Linked DNA regions of Homo sapiens: region 1 is linked to region 2. A link means that fine-mapping ties the variant in region 2 to the expression of a gene that starts in the linked region. Tissue or cell type: whole blood. Region 2 holds a variant in brackets; the other region holds the start of a gene. All regions are shown on one strand. Distances are from middle to middle.

What was found. PIP is the estimated chance that this variant, and not a neighbour inherited with it, causes the effect.
Region 1: TSHZ3 starts here. The variant in region 2 is fine-mapped to the expression of TSHZ3 in whole blood (TOPMed, PIP 0.93).

Annotation. Positions count from the first base shown.
Region 1 is chr19:31,345,668-31,352,509 of GRCh38, reverse strand. It overlaps TSHZ3 (teashirt zinc finger homeobox 3), which reads left to right and starts at 3,074. Exons shown (of 2, transcript NM_020856.4): 1 at 3,074-3,330. The coding sequence starts at 3,291. TSHZ3-AS1 (TSHZ3 antisense RNA 1) reads right to left here. Exons shown (of 3, transcript XR_002958388.2): 1 at 3,593-6,842.
Region 2 is chr19:31,294,056-31,300,897 of GRCh38, reverse strand. The region is part of intron 1 of TSHZ3 (teashirt zinc finger homeobox 3); the gene reads left to right. Among named protein-coding and RNA genes, the nearest start is that of TSHZ3-AS1, 24 kb to the left of the region's middle. The variant T/G (reference allele first, on the strand shown) is at 3,844.

The DNA.
Region 1 (6,842 bases), 52 kb before region 2:
GGGGCCAAAAAGTTTTAGCGCGAGACCTCCTGGCTAAAACCTGGCCAGCGACCTCGACAACACATCCTAGGCCCAGGTGAAGGGGGTTTAAGCCCTTGCATCCAGGTAGCTTCCGGTTCTGCAGTGTGCTTGGTGCGGATTTGGGAAGTCTCCCTTCCTTCTCTCCTAGCCACACCCAGCCCACACAAGGGCAGAGAAAACCTGGTGGAAAATAATGACTCGGGCGACACTGCCCCTCTTCCTTCAATTCCATCCCTACAATGGTCTGCAAAACTATTCATGTTTGGGGGTCCAGATATTAAGTGGGGGTGGGTACATGTGGCTGAAAGAACACAGATTAGGCCTTCAGGCTGTGCCAAGCCAGGCCGGGGGCCTTTTTGCGTGTCCCGACATGGCAGTATGGTTGCTGCGTGCACTCCGCATAGCCCGTGTTGTGCGTGGCGGGCTGTCGCTGCAATGTGCAGCCCATTGACACTGATGGATGCGCCAATGGTTGGACGGACAGATGTTAGGGCGGATCGCACAGCGCTCGGCGCCTGAGCGGGGGAGGGCCAGGCAGCGACCCAGCGGCGGCGGCCGGCTACGCGGAGACCCGAGTTCAGGCCGCGGCCCGCAGTGGGAGGGGGCCGAAGGAACAGAGGTTTGCAAGAACAGCGAGGGGATGGAAAGGAGGAGAAAAGCGCGACCAGGGAGAACTACACGCTTCCGTGTGCGGCGCCCCGCGCTGTGCACACGCCGCACCGGGCGCGCCTAAGTGGGAGCTTCGAAGGTGAGCTGGGAGCCGGCGGGAGCTGACCCCGTGCGGCGCAACCCGCCTCCAGGCGACAGGAGCTCAGCGCGGCCACCAGAATGGTGAGGCCGCCGGCGGTGTCGGCCAACTCACCGTTTCCTCGCTTGCAAGAAGCGTTTCACGCTCCACGGCCGCGTCTCCCCGGCCTGGAGGAGTAGCGGTTCTGGCCTCTGCGGCCGCGGGCACCCAACGCGCACGGCGCCTCAGCCCCCGAGTCCGCCAGCCCGAGAGCCCCGCCGCAGCCCGCCTCGGACTCCCTGCCCCGCCTGGGGTCCGTACCCCACAACTCCGAGCGCTCCTGCGCGCGGAAAGGCGCTGGAGGCGGCTTTATAGCCGGGGAGGCCAGCGGCGGCGCATCTGCATCCTGGGAGACGTCTGGACCCAGCCCAAGCCCGCAGGCTGGGCGAGCGGAGACTTTTGATCTTACCGTGTGGGTGAGATCACTGTCTCCCGGTCTAAAAGAAAAGAAAGCATGCTGTGAACTTTTGAAACAAACTTGCAAAAACAGTCGTAGAGAAAAAATAAAAAGGACACAGGGCAGAAAAAGAGGGAGAAAGAGACTAAAAAAAGAAAAAGATAAGGGGAGGGGGAAGGAAGGAAGGAGAGAAGGAGGAAGAAGTCTGGGGTTTGCTGCTCCAGGAGCGCTCAGGCAGCCGGTGCTGGAGCGCGGGGCGCCCGCCCTCGCCGGGACTGTCGGCCTCGGGGCCTGCGAGAGCGCCAGAGCCCCAGCCGGCGCGCCCGGGCGCAGGGCCGCCTCGGGGATAGTGGGCCCGGAGGCCGCCCCCGCGCTCCAGCAGCCGCCGCCCGGCAGCGCCCGGAGCCGGCCCCGGCGCGGCCGCCCCATTCCCGGCCTGAGAGCTGGCCCAGGGAGACGCAATCGAGCCCGCAGCGCATCGATGCGCCGCCGCCCGCGCCGCTCGGGCTCCGGCTCCCGCTCAGCCGCCGCCGCCCGGGGGTCGCCCGCATGAGCTCCGGCCCACCCGCGCCCTCACCGCCGCCCGTAAGTGAGCCCGCGTCGCCCCGCCGCCCACGCCGCCCAGCCAGCTCCTTCTTGCCGCGGCCAGTCGGCCGGGCCGGCCCGGAGCCTCAGCGACCCCGATCACCAATCAATAATCAATCCCTCTAGTCCAGCAGCCCCGGCAGGCCGGGCGCGGGACACGGCGCGGCGGCCCCCTAGGCTCTCGGGGGGAGCCCCTGGCGGGGGATGGGCAGGGGAGCCCGGTTTCCTTCTCCCGCCCCCGTCCCGCCCTAGGATCGGCCCGCGCCGTGGATGGGGGGCGCGGCCCGGCTCCCGGGGGCGAGGGGCGGGGTGGAGGGACCCTGATCATCCCAAAGTCAGGAGAGGAAACTTGAAGGAACCCCCTCCCACACCGACCCCCGGGACGGGCCCAGGAAAGTTTGTCCGGGGAAAAAAAATTGGGGGAAGTGGCTACGGCGGGTCCTGGGGGAGGAGCTGGGTGGCGCGGGGTCTGAGGGCTGCCCCCACCCGCCCCGGCCCGCGCCCGCCTCCTCCCTGGAGGGGGCCTGCCCGTGGGCTCTGGCTTCCCCGGGGGACGCCAGCCCCGGCCCGGGGACCACGCTGGGGGCTCCGGAGTCGGCGGGTGGAGAGGAGTGCGAGCCGGGTGGGGCAGCTGGGGGGTGGCTGGGGACGAACGCTGGGTGGGAATAGGGGTGGGGGGTAACGAGCGCCCCGGGACGGGCTCGGCGGGGCTGGCGCCGCGCCCCCGCGTGTGCGCACGGGGCGGAGGCGGAGGGGCGGCACCCCTTTCGCTGGCGGGGCGGGGGTCCCACGCGGGCCTGGGGCCGGGGGCGGGGGCGCGGCGCCCCCGCGGGCGGGCGATTGACACGATCATCTCCTTTTCCTTTAAGCTTGCCTGTTGCCGACGCCGCCGCTCCAGCCGCGCCACGGGCAGAAGACTGGACCGCCGAGCCCCGGGCCGCGGCGGCGGCTGCGCGTCCCCCCGGATGCCGTGACCCCCGGCCTAGGGGCGGGGGCCGGGGCAGTACCGGTCCGGGCCGCTCCCGCGCTCCTCCTCCCACCGCTCTGCCCGCCCTCTCCCCGCCCCCCAGCCCCGAACCCCGCGCACCTCGTCTGGGGACGGGGCGGGGGGGGGCAGGGCCGCCGCTCCTCCCCGCCCCCTCCTCCTCTGGCCTCTGGAGCGATTTGTCAAACTTCCCATTCCGCCGGCAGCGCGGTCCTCCTCCTCCTCCTCCACCTCCTCCTCCTCTGCCTCCTCCTCCCCCCCGTGCTCCTCCCTCCCCGAGCCTCCCTCGCCCGCCCTCCTTCTTCCCTCCGCACGTTCGGGGTTCGCGGCGGAGCGCGGCGCGGGGGGGACGCGGAGAGCCTGGGCGCAGCAGCATCCTGCGGGCGGCCGCTCTCCGGGGGGGAGGCTGAGAGCAGGCCCGCCTCGCCCCCCCGCGGGCCCGCCGCCCCCTCCCTCCCTGTCCTCAGCCCGGCAGCGGCGGCGGCGGCGGCAGTGGCAGTCGCCGGAGAAGCATCATGCCGAGGAGGAAGCAGCAGGCGCCCCGGCGCGCAGCAGGTACGAGCCGCTTCCCCTTCCTTCTGCTCTCCTCCTCCTCTTCCTCCGCTCGCCCCGCGCCTCCAGCGGGCGCGACCCCGCTCCTCGCCCCGCTCTTCTGCCCGCACTGAGTAACTCCGGGCGCCGCTCTCCTGTTTGGGTGCGTGCGCCCGCCTCGGGTACCGGGCGCCCCCCGGACGCCCCGCCGCGCTCTGCCCTCTTCCCTCTCGCACCCATTTGGGGAGCCGCTCGCGGAGCGCGCTGAGCCGCGCCAGGTCCCTACCTCCTCAGCTCTCCGGCTGCAGAGGGAATGGGAAGCAACCCCGGCCTGGCTCTTTCTGTGGGTGGCGGGCGGGGTCACCTGAGTTCCCCGGGACATCTTCCGCGTCCTCCGAGCGGCCGACCGCCGGGGGACTGCCTGGTGTCCGCCGAGCCAGGGAGCGCGAACGAGTGAGCGAGCCGGTCCCCTCGGCCACCTTAGTACTAACACGATTGATTCCTCATTTCTTGGGCCCAAACTGGGCACAGCGGTGGAACCCGGAGCGCACAGGGTCTGGGTATTGTCAGATGACTGTCAAGTCCATGTTAGATGCTGGCGTTTCCTTCTCCCCTGTTTGTGTTTCCTCGCCCCCACCCCCTCCTTGTACTGCTGCTCCCACCCTCATCTCCGCATAGCACTTAGTTCTGGGACGTGTCTGAGTACTTTTTTGTTCCTCCTTTTTTTTTTTTTTTCTTCTTCTTTAACCGGGAGTGTCAACTCCTGTTAAGACTGAGCCGATTTTTTTCTTTTCTTTTCTGGAAAACGCATCATTGAAAACAAAACAAAAACCACACACATAACATTATTTTGCAATAATGTCGGTTGGGGGCATGTTGCCTGGAAGAAGGGTTTCTGGCCCGTTGCCATCCTTGATTTGATGACTGATTGATCGCCCGTCATGCTGCTGCCTTTGATCTATTCATTCCCAATAAACATCAATAAATCACTTGCAATAGTGAGGCCAAGCTCTGTGACGTCAGGAGGGCCCTGTCAGTGCAACTTTGGGATTTGGGGCGGATTGCCGAGAGGACCACATATGGACGTGATGTATTTTGATATGAGTAACACTCAGATGTGCAGAGGTTCAGATGCTCCCTGAAGGGGAGGGTTAAGTGGGGCTTCCTTTCTTTTCTTTTCTCTTCCTTTCTTTTACTTCTCTTTTGATGTTAAGAGGGAAGGGCAGAGAGTAGGGTCAGGGCATTGGCTGGTGCCCATCTTGGAGGAAGGCGTTGTAGCCATGGTGCCCTGAGTGCCCATAATTTCCATCATGCCAGCCGGCACTGCCAGGGGACCTCACACGTTGGCTGCACTCTGCACTCCAGACCCCTTACACGGGGTCACAGAGAAGGAATGATAATTCTCTCTTCTCCCAGAAATGTACTTGCCTGCCAGTGTCTTCAGAAAATCTCAGAAGAAAACAGGGTTGGTTTGGGGCTTAGGATGCAGGTTTTGCTCTCTGTCCTCGGTGTTGCCCAAATTTAGAAAGTTTGAAAATTCCAGGAGTGATTGTAGGGAGCTTGCCGCCTCCCTAGTTAACCTCCTGGAGCTTGCTTCTTGCCCGTCCCACCTTCTACTTTAAATTCCAGGCTCAAGCAATGAGCTTATCTACCCAAAATAAACTCTGAAACTTTGGAGGAATCCTTCACAAAGTTGAGTAGTAGGAATGTCTTGGGCTTCTTCCAGTCTTTGAAATTTTTTTTTTCTTTCCTTTTTGGATACACATTTTAAGGTATGTGTGTGCCTCCATCCAATGAACCATATGTGATTACATCTTTACATTTGGTTCAGAACTCTCTCTCTAGTTCATCTCTTCGGTTGCACCCTGCCAATCTGAGACTCGTATTTGATAGCTTCCTCCAGAAAAATATCAGAGGAGGAGGGAACCTGCTGTTGGCTTTATTTATTTATTTATTTATTTATTTTTAGAGCAACCTGTTCACTAACCTTTTCACACTTTTTTTTTTTTTTTAAAGAAAGCCAGCCAGGAAATCTCAGGTCAGTTAAGAAAAATTCATTATATAAAAAACTTGACTGCAGGACTAATAGGAGATGGAAGAATGGTTTTGCTCTATCAAAATGACCCGTCAAAACGACTTTGTTTCATATTTGATTTAATTGTCTCTCTCCTGACAGGCACATTCATCAATAGCTTAATGGTCAATCAGAAGCTGGCAGCATGAGTGCTTTATTTCTTTCCCATACTCGGGTTTTGGATTTACTTTATCAGAATGCCTCTGCCTAATGGACATGTGGAGGAGGGGGTGGAGGCGGACTGAAGAGCTACTTATTTAAGAAGAGTGGAGAGAAAAAAAAAAAACTCCACATTTAGGCTGGTGATAAGTATGCACAGAGGTTTTTTTTTTGGGGGTGGTTTGTTTGTTTGGATGGACCAGAAACTTCCCATTTTTTTCTCCTCTTTTTTAGTTTTCCCAGCTGCAAGTTATAAGGTTCATGCCAGCTTTTGTGGCATACTGGGAGTGATGACAAATTGATTGCTTTGTACTGATAGAGAGAGAGAGTGGGGAAAAGAAAGATGTCTGCTGATTGGTAACTGGAAATCCAGTCCCCAGCAACCTTGAGAATACTCGAGAATTTTTTTCCCCTCCAAACTGAAAGGTCCGCTCAGCCATAAAAAAAGAAAAGTTGTTTTGCCAGCTTCATTAGTGTTCACCTAATTAGCTGTAAACCTGATGGATTCCTGACAGCTTTAATGATTGGAGATGACAAGCTCGACGCAGTGTCATCCAGCAGAATTAGGTTTGCAGCTAGTTTGATGTAATCAAGTTGATATTACACAGTCCTGGCTGCCTTTAGTTGTGCATTAACTCAATTTTCTGCTGCAGGTGACAAATGGGCTTTGGTACCTGGATAATCATGTCATAGGAATTAGGGCCCTTTTAATGGTCTAGGGTAGAATAACAACCACAAAAGGCCAAGAGCTGGGTAGGGCGAGCAGACGTGGCACACAGGTACACACGGTCTTCATATCTAGGCCAATGTATCATTGCTTTCCCGAAGGCCGAAGCAGGCTCCAAGAATCCCTGAAAATACATATTTCTGTACTTTAGGATTTTTTGATGTTTTGATAGAAACTATGTATGGCTTAGGGTCTTTTCTCAAAGAGAAAGAGAGGTTTCTTTACCTGCCAAAGAGAAACCTGGGCGGGAGTTTGCTTCCTTGAGACCTGTAATTTCCAGGGGGTGTGCATTTGTGCTGGACAGATGTTGCTGCTTTTAGAAGCTCAGAGGAGTGGGGTTAGGGAAGGACAGTGTCCTTCAGGCAAAATGACCATTATCCCCTGCTTAAAGCATGATTTTCTCCTGTTCAGAGTGGTTTTTAAAAAACATTTCTGAAAATGCCAGAAAAATTTTAGTGTAATACTTAATAGCAGATATTTTACTTATATTAATTTTCTGGAGGCAAATGTGAAATCATAAAAGACCATTTCTTATGCTTCCAAAAGAAAAAAAAACCAAACAAAAAACAAAAAGAA
Region 2 (6,842 bases):
TCAGTGCTCCGCAATCAGTAGGACTTTCTTCCTGACAACATTTACTTTGTCATTATCAATCTTGTAAGTGGTCATCTAGCTGGTTCTGGGTGGATGGAGGAGTGTCATTATTAATGCATTTGGGGCTGTGACTTCCTACCGAGAATCTCTCCTGAAAATTAAACTTCTTACCAATTTGGATCAAATCAGAGGAGCCACTTAGCAGCCCTGACCCCAGGCTTGTGGGGCCACTGTAGACTGCTGGGGCGTCAGCTCCATGCACGCTGTGGGACCTGGAGCAGGAGGTGGTGCGGCGAGTGCATCGTTAGAGAGGCCTGGACCTGGGCCAGCTCTCCTGGGGCCATCCCTCCCTAGGAATTCACCCTTTGGTTATAACCTAGCTACTTTCCAAGCTAGGTTGGTTTTTTCTTTTTGTCCACATTGAATTGAGTTCATCTATGGTGATATAAAAAAAATTTGTGTTCAATTATAATCATATCCAACTGCCCCAAATTAAACTGCCCTGATCTATAAGCATTCATAACTGCATACAGTTAAGTTACATTAATAGTCAATATAATAAACCTTCACCTTTATTGAAGCTGCTCTTGTTTCTACAGCAGTTCTTTAATCTATCTCAATAGATTTCTGGTGTACAGCACGTATAGATTTGGCCAGTGACAAGGGTTAGAGTAGTCTCGTAGAACATTTACCTGTAGCTCTGAAAAGCCCACATTTATCAGAGGATGAAGTCGATCACAATGTACCAGAATCAATGGAAGGCTTGTGGGATCCCTCTTAGGCTTGTAATGCATTCACCTTCTTTGGAGAGAATTCACACACACACACACACTCTCTCGCGTGCTCACACATACACACATACTTCTCTGTCTTAAAGCCATTTATCTCTGAATGTCAAATTGCAATAATTAACCATTATTGATCTTAAATTCAATTAACTTCATTAACACAGGTCATGGTGAGGGTGCGTGTAAAGGAAAGGCATTTGACAAGTGTCTTTGCTCATGTGACATTCTGTGTTCACAGTGGCGATGATACAGTGTTCCTACTGTCCCCTCCAAGAGGCTGCCAACAGAGAGGGCTGCCCTGAGCCTCAGAGACTTGGGTCCCGGACCCAGTCAGTGAGAGACCCCCGAAGTAATTTTTCTTTTTGGTCCTGAGAACTTTGCACAGTAGGAGTCTTACAGCTGTAAGGCAGCGTTTGAGCCCCCTTGCTATGTGTGGACACGGGGACCTTTGGAGCACAGGCAGATTAATCCATGATGGTCAAGGGATGCTGACCCAGGGCCCGACTTCTCCCCTGCACCCCATAACCTTGTCACAGGGTGTTCATGGACTTTCAGGCTTTGCTACATCCAGAAAGCGGCCCTTCTATTTGTATTTTCAGATTAAATAAAAATGACTTTCCCTCTTGATCAAGAAGAAAAACACCCGCATCCCACAATTGCGACCAGCAGAGGGTTCTGGGCACCCTTGCTACACGTGTGACATTTCTTGCTTTATCTACCTTGCATAGTTTGTGTCTCCCCGTGCCCTCCAAGGGAGGTGATGATATTGTCCCATTTTTCAAGTGGGGAGACTGAGGCTGAGAGATGAACAGACTCACCAAGCACACCTTGCCAAGGTGGCGTGGCCGGACTCCAGCCTACTGTCCTTTCCGGTCAGAGAGAGTCGCCATGCGGTTGTGTGTCACACTTTTTTTTGAGATGGAGTCTCGCCCTGTCACCCAGGCTGGAGTGCAGTGGTGAAATCCCGGCTTACTGCAACCTCCGCCCTTGGGGCTCAAGCAATTCTCCTGCCTTAGCCTCCCCAGTAGCTGGGACTACAGGCGCCCGCTACCACGCCCGGCTAATTTTCGTACCTTTAGTAGAGACAGGGTTTCTCCATGTTGGCCAGGCTGGACTCGAACTCCTAACCTCAGGTGGTCCACCCACCTCGGCCTCCCAGAGTGCTGGGATTATAGGCATGAGCCACCGTGCCCAGCTGTGTGTCACGCTTTTAAAGAATCAGGAGACCTTCTCTCGGTTTCTTCACTCTTAAGTAGTACATTTTAAACGTGTATTCTGGAGACAGGCAGTGAGATCCAGCAGTAAAAGCCCTGGCTGCTTTTTTTTCCCAATTCCAGTCCTCGTTCTGTGTCCTCATCCCCTATTCTCTGTCTCTCTAAGCGTCAGTCTCTTCATCCATGACATGGAGCCCATGGACGGCTCTCGCTCCTTCTCGGGCTGGTTTATAGCTGGGCAGCGATCATGTGCAGAAGGTACCCCCAGGAGTGCAAGGCCCCACAAAATGGGCCAGGACCGTTCCCAGACAGTACTGCTGCAGGTAGATGGGAGGCTTCTGTGCATCCACAATTGGTTCTGGGCTTTTAATTCTTTACGGAAATGCTGCTTGGTGCCGAAGTGTCTCAAGGAAATGGAACAAAACAAACAAACAAAAAGAACAAGCATGAAGTCGGCTCTTCTATGGGGTCAACTTTTAATTTAAAAGTTTGATTTAATTCAAAGAAATTGACTGAGTATCTGGCTTGTGCAGAGCCCTCCCTCTGCTCTGTATGGGGAGGGCTGGGACCCCCTTGCCTACCCAGCCCACTGGGAAAAAGGGACTGCCTAGCTGTAGGGTTTCTGCAGGGCTATGGGGATGCAGAGGTGAGAAGAATGGGCTTTGGATGGCGGGGACAGCAAAGCTCTTGGTCATGTGACACATCAGCTGGGTTGTGGGAGGTGAAATGCTCCTGGTCACATGAGCAGCCCTAGAGTGGCCTTCCCTGGGTGCAAGGGAAGCCAAGAGACACAAATCTCACAGGTCCGTGAGCACCTCCTGAGGAGTGACAGGTGACCTAGGAGGCCGCAGGAGCTCCATACAGCTCTATCCCTGCGCCCGAGGTGGTGGCCCACTGACCCTTTCTCAGGAAATGTCTGCTGATCCAGTAGCAGGTCTCTCTGCAGAGGGTGAGCATTTCACAGCTGGGTTTTAGGAGCATAACCACTGGACCTGTGAGTACGCATTAGGGCAGGGATGGCCAGGGAAGCAAGTGGCAGCTGAAATGGGTGGGGGTTGTACCTATCCTGGTTTATTTTGAGTGTCCTCTCCAAGCCTGTGTGTTTCTAGAGCACTTGCATTAGAAGCAGAAAGTTCAGGCCAAGTGCATCACCTCATGCCTGTAATCCCACTGCTTTGAGGGGCTGAGGAGTTGAAGGCCAGGAGTTCAAGACCAGCCTGGGCAACATAGCTAGACCCTGACTCTACAAAAAAAATATTAAAAATCAGCTAGGCGTGGTGGTGTGCACCTGTAGTCCCAGCTACTTGGGAGGCTGAGGCACGAGGATCAGTTCAAGGCTGCAGGTGAGCCATGATCACACCACAGTACTCCTGCGTGGGCAATGGAACAAGACCTTGTCTCTTAAAAAAAATAAAAAATTAGAAAATCGAGGTTGTAGAACTTTCTGCAGTTCTTAGGAATGGGCAAAAAAAAGAGACAGGAAGGGAATAAGCTACCCTTACTCTTGGTAGTTATCTTATTCAGTCTTCACAGCAGAAGGGTGGGGCCCAGAGAGGTCTCACTGCACATCTGTCTCCATTGTCCTGCCTGCCACACAGACGCCTACCCCGAGTAGTCCACCACAGGGACCTGGGAATGCTGGCGACGTGATCCGCAGGAGGGATCCTCTGAGGGGATGCGGGGAGCTGAGAACTGTGCCCAGTGGAGGAGGCAGTTGGCCTCGAACAACAAGCCTGAACCTGAAAGGAAGGGACAGACCTGAAACCCGCTGATTCCCACAATGGGGGACAAGACCCTGCCTGTGGTTAGGGGTGCTATGCCCCCTGGATGCTTTGGGTATT[T/G]CCCAACACCCTTCCAGCCTCCCACCTCCCGCTCCCACTGAGGTCAAAATTAGGACTGCAGCACATAGTTTGCCTATGTCTCTGTTTTCCCATAGTTTGTTGTCACTGTGGGTGACACTTTCACCTAGAATGCTGAGAATGCTGCCACGGAAGAGAGCAAAGGTGAGAGGCTGGAGAGCTGTCCCAGGCCCTTTGGCATTCTGTGGAGCTGGCACCTGAGGCCCCTGTTCCTTTGTGACTGACCCCCAGTGCCAGAACCCACTCTCCACTGACTCCCAGGCATGCAGCCCCAAATGCCCACTCCCTGGGACCAGGCACTGTGTCTTCTAGGCTGACGGTGCCCAGTATAGAGCCTGACACACAGGAGGTGCATGCTACAAATAAAAATTCCTTTATAACTTTCAAAATGACACAGTACTAACTGGGCAAGGTGGCCCACGCCTGTAATCCCAGCACTTTGGGAGGCTGAGGCGGGCAGATCACCTGAGGTCAGGAGTTTAAGACCAGCCTGGCTAACATGGTGAAACCCTGTCTCTACTAAAAATACAAAAAATTAGCCAGGCATGGTGGCGGGCACCTTTAATCCCAGCTACTCGGGAGGCTGAGGCAGGAGAATCGCTTGAACCCGGGAGGCAGAGGTTGCAGTGAGCCGAGATCACACCACTGGACTCCAGCCTGGGCAACAAGAGCAAAACTTCGTCTCAAAAAAAAAAAAAAAAAAAAAAAATTCACAGCACTTCCAGCACTTCATGAAGGTGTGCTTGTGAACATTCCAGACGGTGCAGAAGGGCACCCGTTTCCTCCCCTTCCTCTCTCCATGCCATTCCCCACAACAGTATCTGCCTCCTCCATCTGCAGGACAGCTGCTAATATCCAGGCCAGGATTATTTCACTGGGTGCCCACATACAATCACACACACACAAACTTGCTCAGAAAACAGAGACCCATGTTTGTGTTTGTGAGACTTATTTTCTTTTCCTACCTTCTGCTATGTCTTAGAGATCTCCTCATATGAGAAATTAGAGAATTATCATTATTTTTAAACTTTGTAAGCAGTTGGGTACACATGGCCATAAAGATGGGAACAGTGGACACTGGGGCCTACTAGATGGGAGTGGGGGAAAGCGAGGGGCAAGGGCTGAAAAACCACCTGTTAGATATCATGCTCACTACTGGGGTGATGGGATCCATCATAGCCCAAACCTCAGCATCACACAATATGGCCATGTAATAAACCTGTACCTGTACCCCCTGAACCCCAAAGTTGAAATTATTATTAAAGAACCTTTTTATGCAGAATAACATACAAAAAGGCCAGCATACGAATATAAGTGTAGGTGGAATTTTCCCCAGGTGAACACACCTGTGCCTCCAGGGCCCAGGTCCAGAGGCAGAACATTTCGTGTTCCAGGATTTCCACAGCCCTTCCCCAGCCACCACCTCCAAAGGGTAACTGCTGTCCTGACTTTTAACACCACAGGTGAGCTTTGCCTGATTTTGAAATTTACATAAATGAATTCATAAAATATTTTGTTGCTGTGATCCTCCCATGTTGTTTTGAATAACAGTTGATTTTGTCTGTGGCATGGCACTCTAGCATGTGGACAGGACACTGTGTATTTATTCACTCTACTGGTGGTAGACATTTGAATCCTTTCCAGTTGCTTTGCTGTTGTGAATAGCGTATCAAAGGATATCAGCGTACAGGTCTTTTGATGAAATACATATGCACATCTAATGGGTCTAGATCTAGGAATAGAATTGCCAGGTCACACAGAGTATGTGTAAGTGTAGCTTTCGTAGATACTGACAAACAGATTTTCAAAATGGTTGTAACAGTTGGTACTGGAAAGTTCCAGTGTTCCGTATCTTCTCTGACACTGGTATCTCTGTCTTATCGTCCTTGTGAGTTGCTGCATAGTATTTCATGATATGGGTATACTTTAGTTTGTTTATTCACTTCTTTGGTATTCTAAGAAATACTGATGAGAACACCCTTAATCATAGAGGGGTTTTTTTGTTATTGTTGAGGGGCTATGTATGATGTATGAATGTTTTTGTAGTAAAGATTGCTATCTGGGTCAGAGTGTAGATATTTTCAATTTTGATATATACTACAAAATTATTCTCCACAAGAAGGCAAGCAAGGCATGAACCAGTTAGTGAGAGTGCTGTTCTCATTATTATATTGTTTCTTTTCTCTCTCTCTTTTCTGTCTCTCTTCCTTGTGATGGATGGTAAGGTGTTAAGGGTTCCTGATCTAGCATAAGAAACACCCAACTCAGACTATATAAGTGTCAATATAAAAATGTGAGATGGGATACTTAAGAGGAAACATATATTGTGATGCCAACCAGTCAATAGATTATATATTGGTTGGAGAAAAGCTGTTTTAATATATAGACATGAGGTTGAAATCTGTAGGCATGTATATGTCAGTCAAAATTATTTAAAAATTGAAACATTTGACCATTACCTTTGTTCCTTCAAGCAGGCTAGAATGATTTTTTCACTGTCCATCCAAACAGTGTTCACATGCACACTAGTGAGGCCTGGGTGCATGTTAACTGAGAGCTGGGTCAATACTGAGTGAGTGCTTGTTGAGTGCTGAGTGAGTGCTGAGTACTGGCTAAGTGCTGACTGAGTGCCGCTGGCTGAGTGCTGGGTCAGGGCTGGCTGAGTCCTGGCTGAGTGCTAGGTGAGTGTTGGGTCAGTGCTGGCTGAGTGCTAGCTGAGTGTTGGCTAAGTGCTGGCTGAGTCCTGGATGAGAATTCGCTGAGTGTTGGCTGAATACTGTGTCAATGCTGGCTGAATGCTGGATCAGTCCTGGCTCAATGCAGGCAGTGCTACAGACCTTAAGAAGGTCACTTAGTCATGGTGGCTACCATGCAGGTGCTCAGTGCAGAAAGGGTAGGGCTAAACTTTTCTGAGGTCACTGGGAACATCTTCTCTCCAAGTTTTCCTTGTGGTCATAAGATGAGGAACTTCGCCAGAACTG